3 separate regions of the Homo sapiens genome follow, and all the other regions are linked to region 3. Evidence: fine-mapped expression QTL. A gene starts in region 3. Each other region holds a variant in brackets. All regions are shown on one strand. Distances are between the middles of the regions. Region 1 overlaps AK9 (adenylate kinase 9). Region 2 overlaps AK9 (adenylate kinase 9). Region 3 holds the start of SMPD2 (sphingomyelin phosphodiesterase 2).

What was found. PIP is the estimated chance that this variant, and not a neighbour inherited with it, causes the effect. A credible set is the group of variants that fine-mapping cannot tell apart.
Region 1: its variant is the best candidate, but not a certain one, in a credible set for the expression of SMPD2 in whole blood (TOPMed, PIP 0.57).
Region 2: its variant is the best candidate, but not a certain one, in a credible set for the expression of SMPD2 in whole blood (TOPMed, PIP 0.79).

Annotation. Positions count from the first base shown.
Region 1 is chr6:109,682,285-109,686,376 of GRCh38, reverse strand. The region is part of intron 1 of AK9 (adenylate kinase 9); the gene reads left to right. Among named protein-coding and RNA genes, the nearest start is that of AK9, 6.9 kb to the left of the region's middle. The variant G/A (reference allele first, on the strand shown) is at 1,775.
Region 2 is chr6:109,648,701-109,652,792 of GRCh38, reverse strand. All of the region lies in intron 8 of AK9 (adenylate kinase 9), which reads left to right. Among named protein-coding and RNA genes, the nearest start is that of AK9, 40 kb to the left of the region's middle. The variant C/T (reference allele first, on the strand shown) is at 1,716.
Region 3 is chr6:109,438,311-109,442,402 of GRCh38, reverse strand. It overlaps SMPD2 (sphingomyelin phosphodiesterase 2), which reads right to left and starts at 1,679. Exons shown (of 10, transcript NM_003080.3): 1 at 1,232-1,679; 2 at 950-1,046; 3 at 775-851; 4 at 336-429; 5 at 104-193. The coding sequence starts at 1,281. It overlaps PPIL6 (peptidylprolyl isomerase like 6), which reads left to right and starts at 1,775. Exons shown (of 8, transcript NM_173672.5): 1 at 1,775-1,947. The coding sequence starts at 1,813. RefSeq lists enhancers at 795-874, 1,035-1,104 and silencers at 1,518-1,723, 1,365-2,184.

The DNA.
Region 1 (4,092 bases), 240 kb before region 3:
AGGTACAGTAACTCATCCTTTACCTTGGACAGAATGTCCCAGACCACTGGCCTTTTAAAACTTTACCAAAGTAATAAGACCTTCAAACTTTGTAGGTTTATCTCTCACTTTATACTTACTGCTCATGTGTCTTTATAAGGGGATCCGGGACACTTGCAACTTCCTGCTCACTAGGTCTGATATTGTCAATATTGTGGATCAAGACCCCTTTATACTATATTGTCTCAAACAGCAGGAGAGTCCTTGGGTAAGACTGGATGTTCACTGTCACTGCTCTAAGTGAATACAAATTGCTTCCGATCCTCTTTCTTGATAGGGATTGAAAAGGATGCACACATTGCCAGATCATCAGCTGCGTAAAAAATACAAGAGACTGTGTCTATCTAGTAAAGATCCCATCTGCACAGCAGTTGCAACTGGGACTACCAGCTTGTTAAATTTGCAGAAGTCTACCCTCATCTGTTGTGCTCTGTCTAGCTTCTACAAAAGCAAGACTGGAGAAATAAGCAGGATTGTACATCTTTTAAATTGTGGTTGGTATCACTCTTCATTCAGAATGATTTACTCTTGGTTATCTTGCCCAGGGGTGGAGGACCCAGTATGCAATGTCATGAGCTTCCACTTGGCCTTTTCTTTTTCTTTTTTTATTATTATATTTTAAGTTCTGGGGTACATGTGCAGAACGTGCAGTTTTGTTACATAGGTATACATATGCCATGGTGGTTTGCTGCACCCATCAACCCATCACCTACGTTAGGTATTTCTCCTAGTGTTATCCCTCCCATAGCCCCCCACCCCCGAAAGGCCCCAGTGTGTGATGTTCCCCTCCCTACGTCCATGTGTTCTCATTTTTCAACTCCCACTTATGAGTGAGAACATGCAGTGTTTGGTTTTCTGTTCTTGTGATAGTTTGCTGAGAATGATGGTTTCCAGCTTCATCCATGTCCCTGCAAAGGATGTGAATTCATCATTTTTTATGGCTGCATAGTATTCCATGGTGTATATATGCCACATTTTCTTTATCCAATCTATTATTGATGGACATTTAGGTTGGCTCTAAGTCTTTTCTGTAGTAAATAGTGCTGCAGTAAACATATGTGTGCATGTGTCTTTATAGTAGAATGATTTCTAATCCTTTGGGTATATACCCAGTAATGAGATTACTGGGTCAAATGGTATTTCTGGTTCTAGATCCTTGAGGAATCGCCACACTGTCTTCCACAATGGTTGAACTAATTTACACTCCCACCAACAGTGTAAAAGCGTCTCTATTTCTCCACATCCCCTCCAGCATCTGTTGTTTCCTGACTTTTTAATGATTGCCATTCTAACTGGTGTGAGATGGTATCTCATTGTGGTTTTGCGTTTCTCCAATGACCAGTGATGATGAGCATTTTTTCCATATGTCTGTTGGCTGCATAAATGTCTTCTTTTGAGAAGTGTCTGTTCATATCCTTTGCCTACTTTTTTTTTTTTTTTTTTTTTTTTTTTTTTTTTTTTTTTGAGACGGAGTCTCACTCTGTCGCCCAGGCTGGAGTGCAGTGGCGGGATCTCGGCTCACTGCAAGCTCTGCCTCCCGGGTTCACGCCATTCTCCTGCCTCAGCCTCCCAAGTAGCTGGGACTACAGGCGCCCGCCACTACGCCCGGCTAATTTTTTGTATTTTTAGTAGAGACGGGGTTTCACCATTTTAGCCGGGATGGTCTCAATCTCCTGACCTCGTGATCCGCCCGCCTCGGCCTCCCAAAGTGCTGGGATTACAGGCGTGAGCCACC[G/A]CGCCCGGCCTCCTTTGCCTACTTTTTGATGGGGTTGTTTGTTTTTTTTTCTTGTAAGTTTGTTTAAGTTCTTTGTAGATTCTGGATATTAGCCCTTTGTCAGAGGGATAGATTGCAACAATTTTCTCCCATTCTGTAGGTTGCCTGTTCACTCTGATGGTAGTTTCTTTTGCTGTGCAGAACCTCTTTAATTTAATTAGATCCCATTTGTCAATTTTGGCTTTTGTTGCCATTGCTTTTGGTATTTTAGTCATGAAGTCTTTGCCCGTGCCTATGTCCTTAATGGTATTGCGCAGGTTTTCTTCTAGGATTTTTATGGTCCTGGGTCTTACGTTTAAGTCTTTCATCCATCTTGAGTTAATTTTTGTATCAAGTATAAGGAAGGGGTCCAATTTCAGTTTTCTCCATTTGACTAGCCAGCTTTCCCAACACCATTTTTTAAATAGGGAATCTTTTCCCCATTGCTTTTTGTGTCAGGTTTGTCAAAGATCAGATGGTTGTAGATGTGTGGTGTTATTTCTGAGGCCTCTGTTCTGTTCCATTGGTCTATGTATCTGTTTTGGTACCAGTACCATGCTGTTTTAGTTACTGTAGCCTTGTAGTATAGTTTGAAGTCAGGTAGCGTGATGCCTCCAGCTTTGTTCTTATTGCTTAGGATTGTCTTGGCTATGAGAGCTCCTTTTTGGTTCCACATGAAGTTTAAAGTAGTTTTTCCCAATTCCATGAAGAAAGTCAGTGGTAGCTTGATGGGGATAGCATTGAATCTATAAATTACTTTGGGAAGTATGGCCATTTTCACAATATGATTCTTCCTATCCATGAGCATGGAATGTTTTTCCATTTGTTTGTGTCCTCTCCTATTTCCTTGAGCAGTGGTTTGTAATTCTCCTTGAAGAAGTCCTTCACATTTCTTGTAAGTTGTATTCCTAGGTATTTTATTCTCTTTGTAGCAATTGTGAATGGGAGTTCACTCATAATTTGGCCCTCTGTTTGTCTGTTATTGGTGTACAGGAATGCTTGTGATTTTTGCACATCGATTTTGTATCCTGAGACTTTGCTGAAGTTGCTTATCAGCTTAAGGAGATTTTGGGCTGAGACAATGGGGTTTTCTAAATATACAATCATGTCCTCTGCAAACAGAGACAATTTGACTTCCTCTCTCCCTATTTGAATACCCTTTATTTCTTTCTCTTGCCTGATTGCCCTGGCCAGAACTTCCAATACTGTGTTGAATAGGAGTGGTGAGAGTGGGCATCCTTGTTTTGTGCCAGTTTTCAAAGAAAATGCTTCCAGTTTTTGCCCATTCAATATGATATTGGCTGTGGGCTTGTCATAAATAGCTCTTATTATTTTGAGATACGTTCCATTGATACCTAGTTTATTGAGAGTTTTTAGCGTGAATGAGGTGTTGAATTTTGTTGAAGGCATTTTCTGCATCTATTGAGATAATCATGTGGTTTTGTCATTGGTTCTATTTATGTGATGGATTACATTTATTGATTTGCATATGTTGAACCAGCCTTGCATCCCAGGGATAAAGCTGACTTGATTGTGGTGGATAAGCTTTTTGATGTGCTGCTGCATTCAGTTTGCCAGCATTTTATTGAGGATTTTTGCATTGATGTTCATCAGGGATATTGGCCTGAAATTTTCTTTTTTTGTTGTGTCTCTCCCAGGTTTTGGTATCAGGATGATGCTGGCTTCATAAAATGAGTTAGCGAGAATTCCCTCTTTTTCTATTGATTGGAATAGTTTCAGAAGGAATGGTACCAGCTCCTTTTTGTACCTCTGGTAGAATTCGGCTGTGAATCCATCTAGTCCTGGACTTTTTTTGGTTGGTAGGCTATTAATCACTGCCTCAATTTCAGAGCTTGTTATTGGTTTATTCAGGGATTCGATTTTTCCTGGTTTAGACTTGGGAGGGTGTATGTGTCCAGGTATTTATCCATTTCTTCTAAATTTTCTAGTTTATTTGCTGAGAGGTGTTTATGGTATTCTCTGATGGTAGTTTGTATTTCTGTGGGATCAGTGGTGATATCCCCTATATCATTTTTTATTGCATCTATTTGATTCTTCTGTCTTTTATTCTTTATTAGTCTGGCTAGTGGTCCATATATTTTGTTGATCTTTTCAAAAAACCAGCTCCTGGATTCATTGATTTTTTTTTTTTTTTTTTGAGACGGAGTCTTGCTCTGTCACCCAGGCTGGAGTGCAGTGGCCCGATCTCGGCTCACTGCAAGCTCCGCCTCCCGGGTTCACGCCATTCTCCTGCCTCAGCCTCCCAAGTGGCTGGGACTACAGGCACCCGCCACCACGCC
Region 2 (4,092 bases), 210 kb before region 3:
GTGCGGGCAGCATGGAGGAGCAGGGAGAAGTCGTGTTAACTGTTTCTATGTACTTTTTTGCATTCCTTCACTGGTTGCAGTTAGTACAAGTTATTTTTGTAATTATTAAAGAAGAAAGTAATTTTTAAAACTTTCATAAAAAGAAATGCTTGAAAATAACTAATAAAGTATTGTAACATACCTAAATGTCAAACAGCAGAAGAATATGAAATAAATTATGCTATATCCACAGTACATAATCTTATAAAACCATTAAAATGTTACATTGACAGTGATCTTATAAAAAGTGTAGGGGAAGTTTAGTTATAATGTTAAGTGAAAAAGTAAGCTCCATTATGATCTCAAACTCCTGAGCTGTGGGTTTGTCATAAATAGCTCTTATTATTTTGAGATGCATCCCATCAATACCTAGTTTATTGAGAGTTTTCAGCATGAAGGCTGTTGAATTTTTTTGAAGGCCTTTTCTGCATCTATTGAGATAATCATGTGGTTTTTGTCTTTGGTTCTGTTTATATGATGGATTACATTTATTCATTTGCGTATGTTGAACCAGCCTTGCATCCCAGGGATGAAGCCAACTTGATCGTGGTGGATAAGCTTTTTGATGTGCTGTTGGATTCAGTTTGCCAGTATTTTATTGAGGATTTTTGCATCGATGTTCATCAGGGATCTTGGTCTAAAATTCTCTTTTTTTGTTGTTTCTCTGACAGGCTTTGGTATCAGGATGATGCTGGCCTCATAAAATGAGTTAGGGAGGATTCCCTCTTTTTCTATTGATTGGAATAATTTCAGAAGGAATGGTACCAGCTCCTCTTTGTACCTCTGGTAGAGTTTGGCTGTGAATCCGTCAGGTCCTGGACTTTTTTTGGTTGGTAGGCTATTAATTATTGCCTCAATTTCAGAGCCTGTTATTGATCTATTCAGGAATTCAGCTTCTTCCTGGTTTAGTCTTGGGAGGGTGTATATGTCCAGGAATTTATCCATTTCTTCTAAATTTTCTAGTATTTATAGTATTCTCTGATGGTAGTTTGCATTTCTGTGGGATCGGTGGTGATATCCCCTTTATCATTTTTTATTGCATCTATTTGATTTTTCTCTCTTTTCTTCTTTATTAGTCTTGTTAGTGGTCTATCAATTTTGTTGATCTTTTCAAAAAACCAGCTTCTGGATTCATTGATTTTTTTGAAGAGTTTTATGTGTCTCTGTCTCCTTCAGTTCTGCTCTGATCTTAGTTATTTCTTGCCTTCTGCTAGCTTTTGAATTTGTTTGCTCTTGCTTCTCTAGTTCTTTTCATTGTGATGTTAGGTTGTCGATTTTAGATCGTTCCTGCTTTCTCTTGTGGGCATTTAGTGCTATAAATTTCCCTCTAAACACTGCTTTGAATATGTCCCAGAGATTCTGGTATGTTGTGTCTTTGTTCTCATTGGTTTCAAAGAACATCTTTATTTCTGCCTTCATTTCGTTATGTACCCAGTAGTCATTCAGAAGCAGGTTGTTCAGTTTCCATGTAGTTCTGCGGCTTTTAGTGAGTTTCTTTTTTTTTTCTTTTAATTGTATTATTATTATTCTTTAAGTTTTAGGGTACATGTGCACAACGTGCAGGTTTGTTACATATGTATACATGTGCCATGTTGGTGTGCTGCACCCATTAACTCATCACTTAGCATTAGGTATATCTCCTAATGCTATCCCTCCCCACTACCCCCACCCCACAA[C/T]AGTCCCCGGTGTGTGATGTTCCCATTCCTGTGTCCATGTGTTGTCATTGTTCAATTCCCACCTATGAGTGAGAACATGCAGTGTTTGGTTTTTTGTCCTTGCGATAGTTTGCTGAGAATGATGGTTTCCAGTTTCATCCATGTCCCTACAAAGGACATGAACTCATCATTTTTTATGGCTGCGTAGTATTCCATGGTGTATGTGTGCCACATTTTCTTAATCCAGTCTGTCGTTGTTCGACATTTGGGTTGGTTCCAAGTCTTTGCTATTGTGAATAGTGCCACTATAAACATACGTTTGCATGTGTCTTTATAGCAGCATGATTTATAATCCTTTCGGTATATACCCAGTAATGGGATGGCTGGGTCAAATGGTATTTCCAGTTCTAGATCCCTGAGGAATCACAACACTGACTTTCACAATGGTTGAACTAGTTTACAGTCCCACCAACAGTGTAAAAGTGTTCCTATTTCTCCACATCCTCTCCATCACCTGTTGTTTCCTGACTTTTTAATGATCGCCATTCTAACTGGTGTGAGATGGTATCTCATTGTGGTTTTGATTTGCATTTCTTGGACGGCCAGTGATGATGATCATTTTTTCATGTGTCTGTTGGCTGCAGAAATGTCTTCTTTTGAGAAGTGTCTGTTCATATCCTTTGCCCACTTTTTGATGGGGTTTTTTTTTCTTGTAAATTTATTTGAGTTCTTTGTAGATTCTGGATATTGGCCCATTGTCAGATGAGTAGGTTGCAAAAATTTTCTCCCATTCTGTAGGTTGCCTGTTCACTCTGATGGTAGTTTCTTTTGCTGTGCAGAAGCTCTTTAGTTTAATTAGATTCCATTTGTCAATTTTGGCTTTTGTTGCCATTGCTTTTGGTGTTTTAGACATGAAGTCCTTGCCCATGCCTCTGTCCTGAATGGTATTGCCTAGGTTTTCTTCTAGGTTTTTTATGGTTTTAGGTCTAACATTTAAGTCTTTAATGCATCTTGAATTAATTTTTGTATGAGGTGTAAGGAAGAGATCCAGTTTCAGCTTTCTACATATGGCTAGCCAGTTTTCCCAGCACCATTTATTAAATAGGGAATCCTTTCCCCATTGCTTGTTTTTGTCAGATTTGTCAAAGATCAGATAGTTGTAGATCTGCGGCATTATTTCTGAGGCCTCTGTTCTGTTCCATTGGTCTATATCTCTGTTTTGGTACCAGTACCACACTGTTTTGGTTACTGTAGCCTTGTAGTATAGTTTGAAGTCAGGTAGCGTGATGCCTCCAGCTTTGTTCTTTTGGCTTAGGATTGCCTTGGCGATGCCAGCTCTTTTTTGGTTCCATATGAACTTTAAAGTAGTTTTTTCCAATTCTGTGAAGAAAGTCATTGGTAGCTTGATGGGGATGGCATTGAATCTATAAATTACCTTGGGCAGTATGGCCATTTTCACGATATTGATTGTTCCTACCCATGAGCATGGAATGTTCTTCCATTTGTTTGTGTCCTCTTTTATTTCATTGAGCAGTGGTTTGTAGTTCTCCTTGAAGAGGTCCTTCACATCCCTTGTAAGTTGGATTCCTAGGTATTTTATTCTCTTCGAAGCAATTGTGAATGGGAGTTCACTCATGATTTGGCTCTCTGTTATTGGTGTATAAGAATGCTTGTGATTTTTATACATTGATTTTGTATCCTGAGACTTTGCTGAAGTTGCTTATCAGCTTGAGGAGATTTTGGGCTGAGACGATGGGGTTTTCTAGATATGCAATCATGTCATCTGCAAACAGGGACAATTTGACTTCCTCTTTTCCTAATTGAATACCCTTTATTTCCTTCTCCTGCCTGATTGCCCTGGCCAGAACTTCCAACACTATGTTGAATAGGAGTGGTGAGAGAGGGCATCCCTGTCTTGTGCCAGTTTTCAAAGGGAATGCTTCCAGTTTGTGTCCATTCAGTATGATATTCGCTGTGGGTTTGTCATAGATAACTCTTATTATTTTGAGATATGTCCCATCAATAACTAATTTATTGAGAGTTTTTAGCATGAACGGTTGTTGAATTTTGTCAAAGGCCTTTTCTGCATCTGTTGAGATAATCATGTGGTTTTTGTCTTTGGTTCTGTTTATATGTTGGATTACATTTATTGATTTGCATATATTGTACCAGCCTTGCATCCCAGGGATGAAGCCCACTTGATCATGGTGGATAAACTTTTTGATGTGCTGCTGGATTCGGTTTGCCAGTATTTTATTGAGGATTTTTGCATCGATGTTCATCAAGGATATTGGTCTAAAATTCTCTTTTTTGGTTGTGTCTCTGCCAGTCTTTGGTATCAGGATGATGCTGACCTCATAAAATGAATTAGGGAGGATTCCCTCTTTTTCTATTGATT
Region 3 (4,092 bases):
CCCCCACACCTCATCCCCAGGTATGAGAGCTAGAGAAGTACCATCTCTCTGTCCCAGGACTGGGCTGCATGTCCCAGCCCTAGGCACTGCCAGCTTCACTCACATGGGTCACATAGGCGTTGAGCACCATGCCACTTAGATGGAGCACCAGCAGCCCCACAGCCTTCCCACTGAACCAGTCACCATGATGGATCTGCAGGCAGGAGGAGATAGAAACTCAGGGCACCGCCACCATCTTTCTGCCCATCCCCTGCAGCTCTCAGAGGGCTGCCTCCTCTACCTTGTATTACTGGAGGTGGGGAAGGGAGGTGGAAGAGGTCAAAGGTCTGCCTTACCATGTAGGGGTAGCCATTGAGAGTGTAGATGTGCTGGGTAAGCTCCTGGATTGGATGTTTGGAGAAGACACAGAGGCCACTGCCAATGATTCCGCTGAAAGCCAAGCCCTGCTTAATAACCAGAAAAACAGGGAGAGACACCCAGCCTTCTTCCCCTCCCTTGTCTTCCAGCTCTGATCAGCTATTTTTTTCTTTTTCTACTGCTGGGACTAGCCCTAGAACCAAGGCGACAGCCTTTGGAGGAGTATAGGGCAGCCAGAAAACAAAGCTGAAATGGGCTGAAGTCATAGGACCTTCTTGGTTCACCCTTCTCCTTCTCTCACATCCAGAGGGAGAGGAGGCTGGAGGAGACTGGAGAGTGCAGGCAGGATAGGGAAGGGCTGGCAGGGCCAAGAGCCTCCTGGGATGACAACAGGCTTCAGGCCAGTGGGCTTCTCACCTCCGGAAGTGGTGTGCAGCTGGGTAGGTAGGTGACAGCTTCTGTCTCAGGTACTGGAAGTCCTGCTCACTCCACACCTGAGGGAAGCGGTGAGGATGCCTGCTTGGTCTTTCCCCAGTGGGACGGTCTGTCCCTCCTCCCAGCCTGGGTTCCGCACCGTGCTGCACAATCTCACCTCCTCCAGCAAAGCCAGGTCGAAGCTCTCCTGGTTCAGAAAGTCTCCCAGGCGCCTCATGCGGTCGGCCCGGTGCTTGCTCAAGTACGGAATGCCCCTAAGGAAGGGAAGAGCGGGGCAGGGGAGGCGACTGCTGGGACCACCGGCGCTGGGGCCAGATGTGGACTTTGGAGGTTCGGGTTTTCCCTACACCCTGAGATCGTGGGGCGGGATAGGGGGAGGAAGGCTGCATGGGTGCGAACGGAAGGTGGCCCCCAGACCGCACTCCGCAGACGCACTCACCAGCAGTTGAGGTTGAAGATCCGCAGTCGCAGGGAGAAGTTGGGCTTCATGGTTGGGGAGCTCCAGGGGCGCTAGGCGGCTCGAACTCTCCAGCGACGGCCGCGGTGGGGACGGGGGCGGCCGGCGGCGCCTTCTCCCCAGACCGTTCCTTCTTCGCAGGCGGCGCGCACAGGTGGGCACCAAGCCCGCGTGGCTCAGGTCGGGCCCGACTCCCGCGTTCCCCCGGCAACCGGCCGGCTGTTCCCAATCAGGCGGGCCGCCAACCCGGAAAGGCGATCCGCTGCCGAAATCCGGGCGCCCAGGCTCGGTAAGGGCCGCGCGCTAGGACCCTGGGGGTCCGGAGAGCGCCCCCGGGTGGGCGGCTCCCGGTTCCTTTTCCTCCAAGCTCGTCCCCGGCGGTCGCGGCCGCCCGCGCGCCGGCGGCCCAGCAACAGGCGCAAAGTTGAGGAAAGGCCCAGCCGCCACGGGCCGCCCTCGACCCGCCCCTGGGCCCCGCCTCCTGCGAGCGGCGGAGGCGGGGCCGCGCGGTTGCCGGAGCGACGCGCAGTGTTTGGGGTCACCGGGCGTCCCCGGGCGCGGCCATGGCAAGGCCGCAGCCGTGCGGGCCCCCGCACGCTAGGTGCGGCTCGCCGTCGCTGCCGGAGCGGCCGCTGCAGGTGAAGGTGGTGGGGCTCTTCAGCTGCCCCAACTTTCAGATTGCGAAGAGCGCCGCTGAGGTAACCACAGAGAAACCTCCGTCGTGGGCGGCCCTCCCCGCTACCCGCTCTCGGCCGCGTGGACTGCAGGCGCCGCGCCTCCTCGAGGCGGCGGGGGTCGAGGCCCCACCGGCCGAGGAAGGGGCTGGCGTGTCCTGGCCGGGCGGGCTCCGTCTGGAGGACCGGGAGGAGAGTATAGGGGGGCAAGTGCGGGTCCGGGGGCGGGCGTTCCACTTGGCGACTTTTAAAGGGAGAACTGAGCGAAGGAAGGGTTCAGAACCGCGCTGGGAGATAAGGTAATCCCCTCCGAGACACACACACACACACCCGCAGATTTTGTTCTACGTCAATTTTTTCTTTAATTAGAGATATTTAAATTTATGGAAAAATGATTACTATATAACTAGCTAATTTTTACAACCCCGCCACCTCGGCCCAAGCGATTTTTGTTAACTATTCATGCGGGGAGATTCTTTTCTTTGAATTTTATAGAGCCGTCACTGCGTTCCAATCGAACTAGATGCTTCACAAGTGCTTTGGAAAATCATTTCTTTGTAAACACTCAGAACGATACTAAAGGAAAAGCACTTGAGGAAACTGGAAGAATTTGGCCAGATCAGTCATGCTGCAGCACACTTACAACCTGAAATGCAGGAGAAATGTATGAAATGTCGGCATGTAGAATTCAGCCCTTCTTACAGGGTTTGCTCCAGAAATGCTGTCCATGGCAAACTTCTCGCCGAAGCTCACTTGACTCCAGGACCATGCCTTAATTAATGTTTTTAACTCCCGAAGTACCCAGCTGGATACTTGACAACAAAATGTTCCCAAATAGAAGATATCTTGGCGCGGTGACTCACGCCTATAATCTCAGCACTTTGGGAGGCAGAGGCGGAGTTCTAGACCAGCCTGGCCAACATGGTGAAACCCCGTTTCTACTAAAAATACAAAAAATTAGCCGGGCGTGGTGGCGGTCTCTGTAATCCCAGCTACTCAGGAGGCTGAGGCACAAGAATCGCTTGAACCCGGGAGGCGGAGTTTGCAGAGAGCTGAGATCGCGCCATTGCCCTCCAGCCTGGGCGACAGAGCCAGACCCCGTCTCAAAATAAATAAATAATAAAAAGAAAACAAGTGATCAGAAGTCTGTGAAAATAATACATGAATCATCAAAAGTAGAAATTGTGGTCTGTGTTGCTTGGGCAGACGGGATCAGCAACCTTTTATTACCAAAGTTAATGGCCATGAAGTTAATTACAAAGTTAATGTATTAATGAGTTTCAGAGATTTTTTTTCTCTTTTTTTTCGCTCTTTTTCTGAAGGCACATATTTTCTGTGCCGACTCCACATTGTAAAGAAAGTGTTGACAAGTTTTTTTCTGTAAAGTCCAGATAGTAAATATGTTAGGCCTTCTTGGCAATAGGGTCTCAGTCACACCTGTTTAGCTTTTTCCTGTGTTGCAAAAGCAGACACAGAGATGGAAATGAATGACAGTATTCCAGTAAAACCATATTATGGACACGAAATTTGACTTGCGTATAATTTTCACATAACGTGAAATACAATTCTTTTGATTTTTTAGAATTGTTTACAGGCCGAGCGCGGTGGCTCTTGCCTATAATCCCAGCACTTTGGGAGGCTGAGGCGGGCAGATCACGAAATCGGGAGTTCAAGACCAGCCTGGCCAACATGGTGAAACCCCATCTCTACTAAAAATACAAAAATTATCCAGGCATGGTGGCGGGCGCCTGTAATCCCAGCTACTCGGGAAGCTGAGGCTGGAGAATCGCTTGAACCCGGGAGGTGGAGGTTTCGGTGAGCTGAGATCGTGCCACTGTGCTCCAGCCTGGGCAACAAGAGTGAGACTCTGTCTTAAAAAAAAAAACAAAAAACTGTTTACAAATCTAAAAATTATTCCTCTCCAACCCCTGATGTAGAAGACAGTAGGTCGAGAAAACAATATCTTTATTGTATTAATAATGTCAATTTTCCCTTTCTTAAACTTTTACCTACTGTAGTTATATTCAAATATGAAAATTCAGCTAGTTTTTTTTTTCTTTTTTTGGAAGAGATGGGGGTCTCACTGTGTTGCCTAGGCTGGTCTTGAACTCCTGGGCTCAAGCAATCCTCCTCGACCTCCCGAAGTGCTGGGATTATAGGCATGGGCCA